2 separate regions of the Homo sapiens genome follow, and region 1 is linked to region 2. Evidence: fine-mapped expression QTL. A gene starts in region 2. The other region holds a variant in brackets. All regions are shown on one strand. Distances are between the middles of the regions.

Region 1 (5,369 bases), 38 kb after region 2:
TCGCATATGCAGATCCCTCCTCCTGTACCCTCCACGTCTCAACAAACTGGATTCTGAAATGGTGACCCCCAACCTGTGAACGCTCCACACTGTTCAGTGGGGCCCGCAGAGGACCTGGGGCAGATACTTCTCAATCGGAGACTTAGGACAATGGTGCTGAGTCCAGCGGAGTGGGTGCCAGGAGACCTTTGGCGCACGTTCCATGCCTACAGCCGGGCGCACACTGGGTCAAGACCTCCCAATGCGTAGCTTTTCTTGGCCTCGGCCTCGCGCTCCCTAAAGCCAACATAACGCCAAGGGCGACGACTCCCGAGAGCCGCGGACACCTCCGCGCGGTGCAACCTGAGGGTCCCACTGGGCCGGCTTTATCTAAGGCACAGGGTGGGGAAGGGGGGTGCGGTGTTGTGGGGGGCGAACACTGGGCTCAGGGGCGATATTCGCCGCGGTGGGGGCGCTTGTATGTCAAGAAGGCGGAACTTCCCCGACTCTCGTGCCTTCCTCGCTCCTGTTTCCATGGGCCCAGGGAGCCTCCAAGATTCCGTCCCTCGCCTGACAACGCGGTCCCTTCAGAAGCAGACAAAATCGAGAAATGCCAAAGTGATGGTCCGAGGACGACGACGGAAGTCCCGCTGCCAGGCTGTGATTGGCCAGCGTCTTACACTCCGCCCGGAAGTGCCTGTCTCCTCGGCTGCCAATGGCCAGCCCTGAGGCACCGCGAGGGTCCTTCTGGATAATGTAGTTTGCGTTGCCTGAGCAGCGACGCAATAAACGCCATTCCTCAATCACCTTGGCAACGACCTAGCAGTAGCGTGACGGGCATAGGGAAATAGCGTCATAGACGGCGGGGATCCTTGAGCCAATGAAAGCTCGGACCAGTGGCAAGTCCGAGCTGTCATTGAGAGGCGGGACTTCCGGCGCCGCCATTGCGGTCCTCATTTTGCTGCTGGTGGGTTGGGCTACAGCAGGCCTCTGGAGCCACACCAGGGCACGGGAGTGGGTGCAGGGACCGTCACCGCGCCTTCACACGCACCATAGTGCCCGGCTAATTACTCTGCTTTTATGAGCCAAGGTGTTCCCGAAAGTGGAGCCAGCGCCACGCGTCTCCAGGGTCTCCATACCCAGCCTTCGTCCCTGCGGTGCCCAGAGGCCTTGCGCGCATTTTGCATTTGGGAAGACAGGTCCTGAGTGCGACCGTCACCCAGCGGAAGTGTGAGGGTTCGGCCCAGCGGCAGGGCTAGCCCTGGGCCTCCTGTTATGGCCCTGCCCAGCCCACAGGTTCTAATGGGGTTGCCAGCGTTGCTGATGGGCCCGGCGCAGGTAAGTGGAGTGTGCCCCAGGCCCTCACCCGCTGGGATTCCGGCCCTCAGGATCCTGAAGCCCAGATAGAGGGGATGTTGGTGTCCTGGGACTCTTGATCGTGTCCTGTCCTCACACGTGGGTCCTGGGCCCTGCCCTGGGAGTCACTTACCCTTACCATCCTGAATCCAGGCAAGGGGTTATATCGAGGGATTCCCATTTCTGGAATCCTGTGGAATGAGATCTGGAAGGCTGTCCCAGGGACAGTGACCAGCATGTGTACCTTGTTTAGTGGTGATGAAATGGAAGCATTCTGGGGACTGCCGGTCTCCATTTAGTCTGGTGGAAACAGGGAAGGGAAACCAATAGTTAGGCCTGGAATGGCAGCCTGAGGAGCTGGACCTCTATTCTGATGGTGGTGGGAGCCATGGAAGGTTTGGAGTAGAGGAAGTAGGTGCTCTGACTCCAGTCTTAACAGACGCCCTATGGATGCCTAGTGGGCAGCAGACTGGAGGGATGGTGATGGTGGAGCAGGAAGGCCAGTGAGGAGCTGACAGATGTGGTCCAGATGTGTGCTTTGGGTAGCTGGACAGAGGGGTGCCCGTGGAGGTAGGACAGATGGTTGGCTTCTGAATCTGCCCAAACTGGGCCATGGATTACCTGATGTGGGACAGTGAAAGAAAGTGAAATGTTAAGATTGACCTAAGGCTGAGTGCAGTGGCTCACACTTGTAATCCCAGCACTTTGGGAGGCCAAGGCGGCCAGATCACTTGAGGTCAGGAGTTCAAGACCAGCCTGGCCAACGTGGCGAAACCCCACCTCTACTAAAAATACAGAAAAATTAGCCAGGACATGGTAGTGTGCACCTGTAATCCCAGCAACTTGGGAAACTGAGGCAGAAGAACTGTTTGAATCTGGGAGATGGAGGTTGCATTGAGCTGAGATCGTGCCACTGCGCTCCAGCCTGAGTGACAGAGCGAGACTCTGTCTTAAAAAAAAAAAAAAATTGCCGGGCGTGGTGGCTCACGCCTGTAATCCCAGCACTTTGGGAGGCCGAGGCAGGTGGATCACTAGGTCAGGAGATTGAGACCATCCTGGCTAACACGGTGAAACCCCATCTCTACTAAAAATACAAAAAATTAGTCAGGCGTGGTGGTGGGTGCCTGTAGTCCCAGCTACTCGGGAGGCTGAGGCAGGAGAATGGCTTGAACCCGGGAGGCGGAGCTTGCAGTGAGCCAAGATCGCGCCACTGCACTCCAACCTGGGTGACAGAGCGAGACTCTGTCTCAAAAAAAAAAAAAAAAAAATTGACCTTAGATCTTTCAGATGTGGAAGTTGGTGTGAG[G/T]AGTAGATTTCAGGGGGAAGATAAAGAGTTGGATTTTGGCCATGTTGTATTTGAGATGTCCCAGACACTACCAAATTGAGGTGCCAAGTAGACCACTAAACATGTGATTATGAAATTATGTCGGGTTTAGGCTGGAAACATCCAAGGGATGGATGCTTGTGTGTGGACACTGCATGCAGTTGTGGGTTGGGTTCAAGATAGTGGCTGAGCCTCCTGAGCAGAGAGTAGGTCTAGGACAACAGTGAAGCATAGCGGCAAAAGTAGGATGAGAGTTGGGCTTTGGTTTAGGTTGATTTGCTTCTCTACAGCTCACTACATTGTTGCGGCCATCCTTCTTGTGGTCAGGGCATGTTATCTCTTCTTAAATAGGGTCCTGGGGTTTTTGTCAGGCTGGTGGAGTGGCAAGATCAGAAAGGGTCAGCCTAAGCTGAGTCCCCAAGCCAAGGTGGGGGCCAGTGGATCTTGGATTTGAGTGTTAGGAAGAGCAAGGACAGCTATGACTGGGGAGGAGACAACACATACAAAGGCAAAGATATCAGAGGGAAGAGATATTTGAGATCTGCTTATGGTTCTGGGCAGCTGATGGTTGAAGGAACAGGGCTGGCAGGGGAGGCATTGACTTGAGGGGCTATGACTGCCTCTTGCAGTGGGGTTTTTGGAGCTCTGTAGCTGGCTTGGACCAGGAATGGATCCCGGTTGCATCTGTCAGGTATGCCATGTGCATGGTGAGATGCTAGGGAGAATGCCTACAGTGTGAACAGGGAGGGGTTGGAAATATAAGAACTGTATGGTCTGAGGAGTGACATGTAAAGGTGAGAGAATGTGAACCATTGGGCCCATGGCCCTGGTACAAGAGGCTTAAGAAAGGGAAGCCCAAATTTTCTTATGTTTGGGAGGTATGAGCCAGAAGACACAAGGAAAATTGGCCAGCAGGAGGGAGGAGGAAGCATCCATCTGCCCACCTGCCTATTGTTCCTCTAGGTTGGGTTGGCCTGGATACAGTGACCAGTGGGACTACTAGGAGAGAGGGGCACCATTAATTCCAGGGCATGTTAGGTGGGGGCCCTGAGGAAGAAGATAAGCTGTGGATGGGTGAGTAGTGGGTGGACTGAGAGGATCATAAGAAAAAGAGATATTAGTGGTAGATGTATCAGGATTCTGAGTCACACAGCAAGGTCCTGCATATTTCCATTTGACCAATTGTTTGTTTCTTTGTCAGCATACTTCTTGGCCCTGTGGCTCAGCTGTCCCCACATTGAAGAGCATGGTAACCTTTGAAGATGTGGCTGTATACTTCTCCCAAGAGGAGTGGGAGCTCCTTGATGCAGCCCAGAGGCACCTGTACCACAGTGTGATGCTGGAAAACCTTGAGCTTGTGACCTCACTTGGTAATGCCCTGTCTCAGCATGGTGATGACTACCTTATGCCTTGTGTCTTTTCCCCATAGAAAGCTCTGTTCATCCCAAAGCCAGATCATGGGTACTGCTTCCTTCTCGGGTTTCCTGTTGTAGGTGCTGGGGTGCTGAGGTTCTGCTGTGTGTACTTCCCCTGTCTCTCTCTGAGCAGCCTCATGAGCTTTCCTAATAGCTGTTGCCCAGGAGCCTTGTGGAGGCAAAGGTTGGGGATCAGACACCTCCAGTCTGCCTAACAGATCCCACTGAGATTCACCAATCCCTGGTCGGGTTACCCAGTATGAGGTCATGCCCAGATTCTGTCTCTTTCCCAATGAGATTTTTTTTTCCTTTTTTTTTTTTTTTTTTTTTTTTTGAGATGGAGTCTTGCTCTGTCCCCCAGGCTGGAGTGCAGTGGCGTGATCTCAGCTTACTGCAAGCTCTGCCTCCCAGGTTCACGCCATTCTCCTGCCTCAGCCTCCCAAGTAGCTGGGACTACAGGTGCCTGCCACCACACCCAGCTAATTTTTTTTGTATTTTCAGTAGAGAGGGGGTTTCACCATGTTAGCCAGGATGGTCTCAATCTCCTGACCTCGTGATCCACCCACCTCAGCCTCCCAAAGTGCTGGGATTACAGGCGTGAGCCACCACGCCCAGCCCCCAGTGAGATATTTTTTAAAAACAGCTTTATTAAGATAAACCATACAATTCACCTTTTAAAGTACACAGTCTAGTGATTTCTATATGTTTTCACATGGTATAATCATTGCTATAATGTAATTTTAGCATGTTTTCATCACCTAAAGAGAAACTGTAGGTCCTATTAGCAGTCCCATTAGCTGTCACTCCCCATGTTCCCTTATCCCTTTCCCCCCGGTCCTAGGCAACCACTAATCTACTTTCTGACTATATAGATTTACGTTTCCTAGACATTTTATAGAATACTATGTATTTTTCTGTGACTGGCTTTCTCTTAGCATGTTTTTGAAGTTCATCAATGTTGTAGCATGTATCAATATTTCATTCTTTTTTATAGCCAAATATTCCAGTGTATAGAAAGACTACAGTTTGTTTATCCATTTACCAGTGGATGAGCATTTGGCTTGTTTCCATTTTTTAGGTGTTAGAAAAAAATGCTGCTATAGAAGCTGGGCAAGGTGCCTATAATCCGTCTACTCAGGAGGCTGAGGCAGGAGGATCACTTGAGCCCAGGAGTTTGAGACCAACCTGGGCAACATAGCAAGACCCCATCTCAAATTTTAAAAAAATTCTGCTATGAACAGTCCTGTACACATTTTTGTGTGGATGTTTTTAGTTCTCTTGTGTAGCTCTGTAGA
Region 2 (5,369 bases):
GATCTCAAGGTGTGTGTTTGTTAAGTGCAGAGGTTCTCCTTCAGATCACCTGACCAGTGCTGCTGCCAGCACTCATCCCCCTCTACTACACCATCCTGCTCAGAGGGCAGGTTTGGCAGCATCACAGGGACCTGAGTGACTTTATCGAGGAATGAACTCCCTGATTGGGGGTCAGCCCTCCTTGCTGCCTGAGTCCCATCATCTGGGGCTTTGCTGGGTTGGGAAAAATAATCCTGAGGGACAAGCTGTGGCAAGTCCAGGGGCAGGAAGGCGGCAGCTGTGAGGAGCCACAGCTAGAGATGGTGCTGGCTGGAGGTGAGGACACTGGGAAGTGCAGCCTACCCACCCTGCCTCACTTTCTGACTGTGCCATGGGGCTGTGGAGGGAGCCTGGAAGGACTTCTTAGCCTCGAAACACATCTCAACCAGCAATGTTGCTGCTGAAGCTCCCCAGTGGAGTTGTTAGAGGAGCCGGGAGAGGAAAAGACCTTGCTACCCACACTTGGGAACCAAGCGATCCAGGTAGAAGAGGCCTCAAGCTGAGCTTCCAGGCCTAACAGGTGGCCTCTGAAGAAACCCCTAGGAGAGAAGGGACTTCGGGCATTTCCCAGGGAGAGTGTCTCCATCTGGTCTCAGGTGTGGGGGGAGTCCTGCCACAGCTGGTCATCTTCTCCCCTCCCCAGCTACACACAAAAGTTCAAATCCCCAGGTCTGGCTCAGGACCTCTGGGAGCAGCAAACCTCCCAGCTGACTTCTCTGGAGGTGAGGAAGCCAAGCCCACTAGTTCCAGCCACTCTAAACTGGGTTTCCATGGCTTGAGGCCCAAATCCTTTTTTTTTTTTTTGTTTTTGACACACAATTTTGCTCTTGTTGACCAGGCTGGAGCGCAGTGGCACAATCTCGGCTCACTGCATCCTCTGCCTCCTGGGTTCAAGCAATTGTCCTGCCTCACCCTCCCTAGTAGCTGGGATTACAGGCGCCTGCCACCACTTCTGGCTAATTTTTGTATCTTTAGTAGATACAGGGTTTCACCACATTGGTCAGGCTGGTCTCGAGCTCCTGACCTCAGGTGATCCGCTCACCTCAGCCTCCCAAAGTGCTAGGATTACAGGTGTAAGCCACCATGTCCAGCCCCAAATCCTTTTCAATAATAGATCACCAGTCTGTCCCTCTGCCCCAGGTCCTGTGGAGGGGTACAGCTTTTACAGACTCCACTTCTGGGAAGCAAAGAGCCACTAGTCAAGGAGCCTGGAAAACCACCAGGCAGAGGGCAGCCATGGGGACAGTCCCTTCTCACACCTGGGGCCTATACTTCCCACTTGGGGCTGCTCACCTGAATCCTGGGTGGGTGGAAGGATGTGGAGGCTGGTTCTTGGTGTCCATGGTTCCCCTCAGGGGACTGTGCTGCAAGTGGAGGGCTGGAGGGTGCTGAAAAGTGGGGCAGATGGAAGGGTGGTGTCAGGGGCTGCCCACATGAGCCATGGCAGATGAGGAGCTCCTCTGCTGTGTGACATGGCACGTAGCCAGCCCTTGGCTCCTGCCTCCCAGGTCCCCATCCCAGACAGGGACATCCACATTCACTTCAGGAGTCCCAGCCTTGACACACCTCTCCTGGGACTCCCACCCTAGCCAGGAATGTCCACACTTCCTCCAGGAGTCCCTCATCTCTGGTGGGACCCCAACCTCACCCACTTCCTGTCCATCGACATTGGGCTCCTCCTTCACACTGCAGCTGAGCTGGACAGACCCCTCTATTCTGGTGTCCTGGGGACCTTCCCCAGGGGACTCCACTGTCCCTGAGGGGTGGGGGCTCCCAAGTGGTTCCTCTGTCTTCTGGGCTGCAGGGAGCACCTCCTGCTTCAGGACATGGGCTGTGATCTGAGGAGAAGAGGTAGGTCACAATGGCTCTAGCCAGGGTCTATCCCTCCAAGAAGCTGATGCCAGCCACACTCACCCAGCCCAACAGTTGCCCAGGGTCATGCTGCAGTCCTTCGACTAGGGCAGCGGCCTCCTCAGGACTGCCTGGCCGCTGACCGCGCACCCAGGCCTGGATCTCGGGAGGCAGTGTGCCCAGGAACTGCTCCAGCACCAGCATCTCCAGCATCTGCTCCTTGGAGTGTGCCTCAGGCTGCAGCCACTGGCAACACAGCTCACGCAGCCGGGCCAGGGCTTCTCGGGGACCTGCCACCTCCTGGTAGCAGAACCCTCGGAAGCGGAGGCGGGCAGTCTCAGGCTCCTCAAGGGTGGTCTCTGGGTCCATGACGGGCAGGCATGGGGGACCCAGAGGGGATGGCATTCTTGCTCAAGGGGGTGGTCTTGGAATCGTCAAGATGGGCCTACAGAAAAGGAAGGGTCGGAATGTCAGCCAAGAGAATCTGGCCAGGGGAAGGCAGACACCAGGCTCAGCCCAGGGGGCTGAGACCAGGACCAAGTGTACTCTGAGGCCAGAAGAGATAAGGCCAAGAAAGCTTCATGGAAGGAGGAGGGTCACAGGACCCAAACAATGATGGCAAATGAGAGCAGGAGGAAGCCTCAGGGACAAATGCTTGGACGCAAGGTGTCCAGGGAGCTTCCTGGAAATTGCAAACAGTTGGGTCCAGCAGGGGACTGCTGGGAGATGACGCTAAAGAGGTGGAGAAAGACAGTCATCACAGAGTTCCAGCGCCAGGCTGAGGAGCCACAGTGTCTAGCCGAGGTGCGAGGAGAGTGGACCAGGGTGGGCGGGTAGAAGGTGGGGCCAGGCTGTAATGTACGGGGACGAGTCGCCCTCCACAATCTCGGGGAGGTTGACTGGGTGGGACCTCCTTTAGGAATGGCTCTGGGGAGGGGGCACGTGGACATCGTGCTCGCTGACCACAGCGAGCCGTGGGCGACTCACACTGCCGGGGCCCGTGCATGTGAAAACGAAAAGCAAAGGCCAAGAAAAACGGGGCCAAAGCTCCACGTTGCGCGGAGTCGAGGGATGGCCACAGCATCCCGGCCCTGAAGGTCTGCAGTGAAAGACGCCCACCTGGACGGGCCTGAGAGACCAGGCCTGACACCCGGCCTATCCGAGGGATGCTCGAACTTCGGGATCTGTCCCCAAAAGGGGAAGGCAAGAGGGAGGCGTTCCAAGAGGACTTGCCAGGCCCGGCCCCCCGGAACGGCGTTGAGGGTAGGAAAGGCCTGAGCGAAGGCTGAGGTGACGCGCGCGGCCTGTCGGGAAGTGGGCGGGCCCTCCAGGGCGCCGACAGCAGGAGCCGTTCAGGCCCCAGAGGGCGACCCCAAGCCCTCCCACGGGGTGGAAAGGCTGCGCCCACTCTGGCAGCCTGCGCTCACCTCAACCCGGAGCGGTTGCTTGGAGGCCGCTTCCCGGATGTGGCGCCGCACAACGCGGGGCGCCTCAGCCGGGTGTTGCCCCGGCGACGCCGCGCTGACCAATCTCTCGCCTGCACCGAAGGCACCGCCCATGCCCTTTGAACTACATTTCCCATGAGCATCAGCAAGACAGGCGCGACCGTGACCCGCTGACCCGCATTTGCAGCAGCCTCTGACGCCTGAGAGGCGCTCTGTTCCTCTAGGAGGTACGGCAGAGTCCCAGGGTTATATGGTCTCCCTCCGCTCTGAGAGCAGCTCTTCCCGGGTTATAAACTTGCGCGTCTGTACAGTGGGCCGGTTTCTATTGGCAGGTGAGGGGAGGGGGTTTTGCCCAATCAGAGGTGGCGCTTGCTTGGCCCCGCCGCCCCCACGCCATTCCCCGGGCCAGCCCCTAGATAACGCTAGGGCATATCCGCCCGCCTCCAGCTGTTCCCGTGGCAACGTTCAGGAGCGTTGCCTCGACTTCCGAAGAGGCTGGAAGTGGCGGCCCAGTGGTTTCCTAGGTCGAGTAGTTCGCTGGGACTCGCTTCCAAGTGGACCCGGGAGAGGCGGTGGTGTAGAAGACCACCCTGAGCCTGGGCTTTCTCCCGCCAGGAGGGTGCGAGGGCCATCTTTGACCTCTGTTAAGCGCCCTAAGGAGGTACCGACGGTTGTGACCGCAGTCTCTGACGTCTTCAGATGTCAGTCCTACAAAGTCGGGGGTGGAGGTTTCCCTCCAGGCTGATCGGACATGCTCAACCGTTTATTTACCTTTGAATTTGGGGAGCAGAACTAGCCAGGGTGACACTAGTTTCTCCCAATAAGCAGTGTTACAGTTTTCTAAATCTGTGGGGTCAGTTTTGCTTCCACACTTAAAAGTGGCCGAGCCATTACTTAGTCAGTCCTAAATTACACCGCCTGTTTTGGTTTCTTTGGATACCTGGGAATCCCTGCTGCCTGCTCTGGATGAAGAGCAGTGGTCTTGATCACCGATTGGAAGCACCGAGCATGTGCGTGGATGAGACTTGTCAACTCGGAGCTTTCCAACGGCCTCCTCAGGTTGTTTTTGGGGATGAGGTGCTTAGGCCTTTTCTCTGGGACTATGCAGAGTCCCAGAAGGAAAAAAAAACAAAAACTTTCACCCTCCACCATGTGGGGAGAGCACTGGGGCGTTAAGGGCTTCTTCAGTAGTTGTTCCCCAGGCAGCTTTGATATAGGTCTCCCGTCTCTGGGCTGCTGGTTCTCAGCCTTCTGCGGTTCTGGAGTCAGCCTGGTGGGAACTCTCTCCTCTTCGCCAAGTCGCCACGTAGTATTTTGCCTTCCCTAACTTAGTGACAGCTCTCACCCACTTCTAGCTTAGGAATGCCATTGCTCCTGACTCCTCTGTCACCATCCTCATACTTGTGGGTTATGTGTTTTAAATACTCCCCTCTGTGGTTTCAGTGGATTTCTGAGCCCAGTGAGATGCATGTGTTCAGTCTGACCTTTTGACATAGAAGCCCAGGGATACTTTTACAGTCACTACCTATTCAAAATTAAGAGCAGAGGGGGAGGTTGGAGGGAGGTCAGCCGAGGGGCCAAGACCTGCATGGAGGTGGGAGCCTAGGTTGGGGGCCACTGATCAGTCATGGGTTTGGGGAGGGGAAGATTGGAGGAGGGTGGACAAACTGAGGGACAACAGGGGCACAAGCAGACGTGGAAAGGAACTTGATGGAGGGAGGCGGCTGGTGGGAAGACAAGGTAGGGTACTGAGCCCAGCCTAAGGGGTCAGGCGGGCTCAGGGCAGAAACTTCGCTCAAGAAGCGTCTGTCAGAGGCATAGAAATGATTTCACGTGACTCTCTGGGTATCTACTTGTTTGACAGATGCTTTTGCTCCTGACTCCCATGGGCTCCCCAGAAAAGTGCTCTTTCAGGCAGGGAAGGGTTATTGTCTGCATTTCACAGCTCTGCAGACTTACTGGGGGACAATGGTTCAGGGACCTACTGGGATTCTGGTGGCCCAAGTCTTGCAGGCTCCAGGGGAGCTAGGTTCT

The links. PIP is the estimated chance that this variant, and not a neighbour inherited with it, causes the effect.
Region 1: its variant is fine-mapped to the expression of ZNF446 in whole blood (TOPMed, PIP above 0.99).

The regions. Positions count from the first base shown.
Region 1 is chr19:58,435,707-58,441,075 of GRCh38, reverse strand. ZNF132 (zinc finger protein 132) reads left to right here and starts at 923. Exons shown (of 3, transcript NM_003433.4): 1 at 923-1,317; 2 at 3,861-4,029. The coding sequence starts at 1,255. It overlaps ZNF132-DT (ZNF132 divergent transcript), which reads right to left and starts at 628. Exons shown (of 1, transcript NR_186311.1): 1 at 1-628. It also overlaps a transcript of ZNF324B not described here. RefSeq lists enhancers at 1-235, 385-514, 747-1,257. The variant G/T (reference allele first, on the strand shown) is at 2,642.
Region 2 is chr19:58,474,145-58,479,513 of GRCh38, reverse strand. ZNF446 (zinc finger protein 446) reads right to left here and starts at 3,162. Exons shown (of 7, transcript NM_017908.4): 1 at 3,010-3,162; 2 at 1,954-2,335; 3 at 1,688-1,877; 4 at 1,333-1,427. The coding sequence starts at 2,295. ZNF324 (zinc finger protein 324) reads right to left here. Exons shown (of 4, transcript NM_014347.3): 4 at 4,078-5,369. RefSeq lists enhancers at 2,904-3,103, 3,258-3,552, 3,374-3,623, 3,864-3,923, 3,984-4,073.